2 linked regions of the Homo sapiens genome follow. The protein of the gene in region 1 interacts with the protein of each later gene in a biochemical or structural test. Each region holds a gene or a part of one and is shown on either strand. Other genes may lie near its edges.

Region 1 (3,660 bases):
CAAAGGACACCTAGGCGCAACAGGGGTCTCAATGTGAAATTTTAAGAACTTCTAATAGTAATTGAACAGTACTCTTTACTGAGCCTATCAAAAACGTCTTTCAAGACTTCATGAAGAAACTTACCCGCCTCTGTTGTGCTGCTGACTGTGGGCAGAGATCCTATAAGGAAGCGCTCGTTCACCCAGGTTTTCCAAGTCCCTCACTATTGCTCCTCTGTCCATCAGGGCCTCTATCGTACGTTTCAAAGTAGCAGCAGTCTCTGGCTGTTTTTGTTTGTGTTTTTAAAGAAAAGAAAAAAAAGCATCAGAATTAATATAAGAGCTAGAATGATTAAGTCTGCTCAGTTCCAATCATAACAGCTCTACTGGTAGGAATCGCTGGGTAAAAGCAACAGAAGCTGGTTTTGGTTAACTTAAAATAAAAGAGAGAGAGAATTTATTGTAAGGATATGAGATAGCTCACAGATACGAGGAATATCTGAAGAACCAGGCTTCGGAGAGTTCAGGGACCAGGGCAGCTCCAGGGATCTGGGAGGCAGGAACTAATGAGTGGCTTCTTCAGAGCACCTCGGCCAGGCTGAATCAGTGCCAATCACTGTCAGTCCTTGTATCCCATGACTCAAAATTCAAATTCCAGGAGAAGAGTATCTCGTTGGCAGGACACCTGAACTGCCCATCCCACCAAAACTGTAGCCAGGGGGAAAAGGTGTTGTCTCCCAAAGAAAAACTGGGAGACTGTAACCAAAAGGGGGAAAGGATGGGTAATCAGACCCAAACTCTGCCCTCATGGAGCTTACAATCTAATAAAGGACAGAACACAAAATACACATGTATGGAGAGCAGAGGGCAGAATACAGGAAATAGCATAGAGACCAGAGGGCTCACGAAAGGAAGAAACATTCAGCTGGAAGAAGGGTTTCACTAAGGAAAGTTTACTTGAAAGGCACCCGGAAAATGATGACCGGAGGTACAAAGAATGAATGAACCAGCAACTGAGCCCCAGTGATGGGGTTCAGGGCAAGGGAGTGCTGAGGAGATAGACGGGTATACACTGGGCACAAGTCCATGAGTAATCAAGGCCTGTTATTTAAAAAAAAAAAAAAAAAAGCTTGAACAATATAGAATCCCATTACCCAGAGATAGACTGGATGGTGAATTAAACTTTCTGGTGAATTTCTTTCCAGATATCTCTCTATGCATATGTATACACAAGCAATTTTTGGAAGAAAAGATACTTTATAAGGATAAGCCTGAAAACTGCAACGAATGCAATGTGGAGAATGAAGGCAAGATGTGGCGAAGAAGGGCACCACAATCTGGTGGCTGAGAGAGTGCAACTGTCACTACAGCTAAAAGGAGAGCTGGAGAAGCTGGTGAGGACAGTAAGAGATGAATCTGGTTTAAGACACGCTGAGTCTCAGATGCCATGGCTCCCCTAGGTTGACCTCTCCAGATGTAAATCTTAAGCTCAAAGCAGGTGGATGAGAAATACACATTTCATAGTCACCTGCACAGACGGCTCTCTGAAGCCTGAGAAGGAGGTGAGATCAATAGAAAGGGTGGAGGGGGAGAGGAAAGGAGATCACCAGCAGAACCTTGGGGAGTACAAACATTTAGGGGCTAACAAGAGGACTCAAAGTCAGAGAAGCAAATATAAAACGTATCATCAAATAGGACAAGGAAAATCGGGAGACTGCCTTGTCCAGAATGACAATGGGGTAGAGGACAGAGATCAAGAAAAAGCCGCGGTGTGGTAGCTACATGGGCATTTGGCAAGATGGGGCCAGAAAGCAGGCTGCCAAGGTTCCCATGGTAGAGGTATGAGAACAATGGTGAGGAGGAGAAAATGCCAGGGCTCCAGGGACAAGCAACTTGAGCAACGTGTTTTAGGAGAAAACACATGGGCAAGTTGGTAGTCAAAAAGGAGCGGACCATGCAAGACGATAAAATGTAGGATTTCTAAAATAGCAACAACGATGACAGCTATGATTTACTGGATAACTACTATATGGTCTAGTGTCTTATTGTTACATATTTTATCTTCATAAAAAAAAAAAGCCAAGAAGGTTTACAGATTTGGGATGGGATCTCTAGAGAGATGCTGACAGGGCAGCTATTAAGTGGAAACGCCTGCTGCAAGGAGAAGGAAAGCTGTGGAAACCATCGGGGAGGAAGCCAGAGGCACACCTTGGCAAAGACAAGGTGCACATCTCCTCAAAGACCTACGTGAAGAGGTGCAAGCAGGGTGATTTTAAAGTGCAGGAGGAAACTTAAGAATAGGCTACCTTCCAGAGGTTCATTTGGGGATCAAATGAAGAGAAAATTGCAGAACAAGTTTAAGTGTGCATTCTGGCAACCAAACAAAATCCACTATATTTTTAAAATTTTCTTTCTGACAAGTGCTGCTAAAATGGTATGAAATGTGCTAAGTATTGGCTTAAGGCTTAGAAAAAAACATTCTTTACTTTCTTTTCATATTGAAGTCCATTAGGGATTTTAAAAATTCCTACTGAATCGTTGTTTATATATTTAACCAACCTTAAGATAAAACAGAAATTTCCTGAAGACAATAAAAATTCAGGCCAAAATCTCTTCCCATTAACAGTAGGTAAAAAGTCTAAGGCAATTTATCCTTATGATTGTATCAAACACATTCCTAGACAGTTCTAATCATATGAAGACTACATTCTTCTCACATTTCATTATAGTTCACAAAGACATCGCCATACATCTGCAGAGGACTCATTATTAACAGCAGCACAGTATTTCATTTAACTGAAAATGCTGTTTCTTGACCTGGCATTACATCAATTAACGTATGATAAGGTAAAGGAACAGCCCATCCAAATAAAGAGTCGGGTCTCAGCTTTGCACTCAAAAAAAAAAAGGAAAAAAACATTTGATTGATTAGTTTTCTGATTAGCTACCCAAATAAATTTCAATTCCAGTTTTGCCTGATTAAAAAGGAATATATCTCAATATCTTTTAAGTTCCAACTGAAGTGTTTACAGTATAAAACTCATTACCCTCTTCTGAAGTAAGAGCTTATAAAGTAAAAAACATTTTCTTCTTACATCTGTCTCAAAAAGGGGAAAGGCTACCTAACAAGAATGTAACTTAGGAAAATATAAAAAAAAAAATTGTTTGACTTCAGTATGTCAAGGTCAAACTGTAGACTACTGGAATGGCCACATTCATCTCACTTTAATTTCAAAACACCCAGAAGTATAAAACGAAAGGTGGAAGGAGGAGCAAAAATAACGCCCCATAGACCTTACCTCACCATAAAGCAGGGTTGGCAAACCAGGGCTCTTGGGCCAAATCTGGCTTGCTACCTGTATTTGCAAATAAAGTTGAACTGGAACACAGCCAACTCACACATCTGCATAGTGTCTATGGCTACTTCTGTGCTAAAGGTAGATCTGTAATTACAAGAGACCACATGGCCCCAGAGCCTAAACTATTTACTATCTGGCCAACCCCTGGTTCTATATTGTGATGGGCTGAGGGAAGCTGGCAGGTCCTTAATCCATGTACCCTAAAATGCACCACAAATAAAACCATGAGCCTGGGCCACTGACTGACGTATAGAGGGTGTATTCCTCACTGGATGTGTCATCAGGTAGACACATCGGGTACCATCTAACGAATACCATCAGT
Region 2 (3,446 bases), on another chromosome or scaffold:
CTTTGAATTTGCTTCCAGATGCACACTTAAGTTTGAGAGCATTTGAGTGTTTGTTTTCTTTTTCTTTTTTTTTTTTTTTTTTTTTTACACAAGACGTGGTTAAGAACTGTTTGTGAACTGAAGTTCCTCATAGTGTCATTTGTATGAGAGAGGATCATGGACAATGAATAAATGCACACTTCTGACTATAATTTTGAGCAGTGAAGGAAGGATGACTGCCTGTTACACAGAAACAGGAATACCATGTTAAGATAGAGGAAAAAAATTTTGTTTATTTGGGGGAACACTGTAAATAACGTTTATAATACTTAAATACATTTGGTTGTTACTAGAGAGTTCTAATATGAAGGGTAGTTTTTCATTATTTAAAAACACATGGAAAAATATGAGACATATTTCTAACATACGAACTATAGTGCCTGGATACATTCTTCAGCATTTGGCAGTTAATCTGCTGAAACCAAAGTAAGAACTGAATGACAGTGACAGTTGTGTTTTATAGTAATAGAATGTGAGAGTTAGAATCTTTGGACAAAGTTAGGCTTTGTCATTTGCCTATTCAGACTTTTACCAAGTTGTACCTCGAGATCACATGTCCGTTTTCTTTCACTGGTTATATTAAAGGGAGAGCTATTATTTCTAAATACTTTACACCTTTGACAAAATGAGCTGCTTGTGTTGAAATCAGTTGAATTCACTAAATTATAATATTGCCAGTGTTTTCAACACGTTAGAATTGATAACAGGTATTTTTCTTTTGTTACCAGGCCTTGTTCATCAAAACAGGTGACAGTGAGTAACCAAATGCAGACCAGTTCTATGCAGGATAATGATAAATTCCCTTCTAGCTCTATTGTAAATTGTTGTACAGATGTCATATTTCAATTACTAAGTTTCAGCAGCTTATTCTTGTACAAATGTTTAAAATATGGCTTTTCTAATTGGATATTGTATTTTTTTTAAGTCTTCTTGAAGGCACTCTAATTGCTGCTAAATGATGTTGCTTCTTTGCTAAAAAATTAAATGACCTAGAAGGTGCAAGTTGACTGTACATCATAGATATTAAAAAGCAGACAGTCATTAACAATCAAGATGTAAAAGTGATCCATGTTGGACATAATTGAGTTTTTAAATCAGTTTATTGGGTTCTAGGGCTGTAGAACACATAGATACTAGATTTTTAATTTGTTCATGGTTATTCTACATTTCTAGAAAGTTCTTATCAGCAAGATGGTCCCATAAGCAAATTTCTTGTGGTTTGTACAGATTTGTTAAAATGTGAACGTTTTCTAACTGCCTCGTAGGGTAGAAACCAATATTTTTCAGGATGCTGTATTTCACTCCTGTAAGGACTTTTTCTTTATTGTCACATTCATAATGCTGATACTTACATGTAAGTTGTTCATGTTGCAGAAAAAGGTTATACGTACCACGGATTCTCTTTAATATTGTACAGTTAAACTGTATTTCTGATGTTGCAAGCCATTTTGTTTTTTCATTGTACATAGACACATTGTCTCTTTAAAATGCTGCTGAAATTGTAGAGAGTATAGCCAAAACAGTAATAAACAATGACAGTTAAAATGTAAAGACTATGAAAATTACATTGGAAGGGAGCTTTCAAGATGGTAGGATATTGACTAACTGAGCTCCTTCACTTAAAAATCAGCTGAATAAATTCCTTAAGTATACTTCAAGACAAGTGTAAATTGTTTCAAGCTGTTAAAGTTAAACCTAATAACCATTATCAAGGCAACTCCTGGGTAAGTAACACTTAGAACCATCAAGAGTGGTTTAAGGGGCTGGCTATACCCATTCCTCTGTAGAGCACAGAGAAATCCTATTAAAAAAAAAATACTACATGGTAATGAAATCTTAGCATTGATTGAGTGCTTTACGTGCTGCCTGCAAGTTTTCAGTTTTGTTGTTAGAGTTTTCGTCTTTATGAATGATAAAGTCCTATGTTCATAAAGTAACATTTAAATTCCTGAACTAAAAGGAAATGCCTGTTGTGCTTAAAATTTTGGGGAGATACGAAGTGAATGTGTAAATCTAACTTTGAGGTTCAGTAAGTTAAGTAGTATAGACCTAGAGATCACTGCTTTACCATTTTACTTTCAAATGAATGAGAGCGACTGCTAGTGGCAGAACGCAGAAAAGGGGAAAAACAAGCCATGAAATGAAGTTGCTTTCCTGACCTGGGTTTAGGTCATCATTTTAAAATCAAAGATGTGTAGGAGATGAATCAACTTATAGACCCATATTTTCCTTCTAAAAGTTTCCCAAAGAAATGTTATAGATTTTGAATAACATGCCAGTGACCCAGCAGGTCCAAGATGGCTAACCAAGATGGCTAATTTAGCCACATTGAATAACTTACTTTTACCCTCACATGGAAAGTTGGTATCTATTGCTAAATGATTTCAAGGTCACTCTGACAGTCTTTGACACTGTTTTTTTTAGGGTTTTATTGTTTTCTGGTCTCCTGGTGTCTGTCCTCAGAATTAAAGCATGTCCTGCATCCCTAAGATGATAGCCAAGGCCTCTCTTTTATTAAGAGTCAGCACTGATGTAGGGTAAAATCAACAGTTTTTGCATATGATTTTAAAATCTTTCTTTGATTTGAATTTGCTTTAGTGTGTGCATGTTGAGAGGAAGTAAGTGTAGAAACCACCCTAATTTGTAAGTTGGGAGTTGGAGATACTTGGTGGTTTTTCAAAAATAAAGACTCAATCTTTTTTTTTTTTTTAAACACTCACTACCATCTCCTTCTAAAACAACTCTGTCAGTTTAAATGGCATATAAAATGTGAACAAACACCTCATTACATGAAGTCAAAATGGTGAAGAGCTTCAGTGAAACATTTAAAGAGTATATTGTGTGTTGTTTTGCTGTTCATCATTACTTATTAAATGCAGTAATGTTGATTGCCCTCATGCTATTAGCTGTGTTTTAGTTGTATAGTACAGTTCACCTAGATTAATTTACTCTTAAAATTTAATTACATTGCTGTTTGATTTTTGTGTGAATGTTATAACCTTACTTACACATTTAAAAGCCCATTGACAGGTCTTTCTTTAATTCTGCCTTAAGTTTTGACCTGTTAACTGATGATTTTTCATCTACATATACTAAATTTCAATGTTCTGAAGATTTAATCTAATTCAAAAAGTGCTTTTAGGCTGGCAGTGATGGCTCATACCTGTAATCCCAGCTCTTTGGGAGGCCAAGGCAGGTAAATCATTTGAGGTCAGGAGTTGGAGACCACCAGCCTGACCAACATGGTGAAACCCCATCTCTACTAAAAGTACAAAAAAATTAGCTGGGCATGGTGGTGCATACCTGTAATCTCAGCTACTCAGGAGGCTGAGGCAGGATAGTCACTTGAACCCCAGAGGCGCAGGTTGCAGTGAGCTGAGATCATACCTCTGCACTCCAGCCTGGGC

What was found. The genes of interacting proteins can lie anywhere in the genome.
Region 2: the proteins of MRPS6 (region 1) and TLK1 form a complex in vitro, tested with the Homo sapiens proteins (one large-scale study listed by BioGRID).

What each region holds. Positions count from the first base shown.
Region 1 is NC_000021.9:34,121,945-34,125,604, reverse strand, and holds part of MRPS6 (small ribosomal subunit protein bS6m), read right to left. Parts: intron 265-3,660; coding exon 125-264; intron 1-124.
Region 2 is NC_000002.12:170,990,309-170,993,754, reverse strand, and holds the end of TLK1 (serine/threonine-protein kinase tousled-like 1), read left to right. Parts: 3' UTR 1-2,932; downstream 2,933-3,446. UniProt on the Homo sapiens protein: Rapidly and transiently inhibited by phosphorylation following the generation of DNA double-stranded breaks during S-phase. This is cell cycle checkpoint and ATM-pathway dependent and appears to regulate processes involved in chromatin assembly.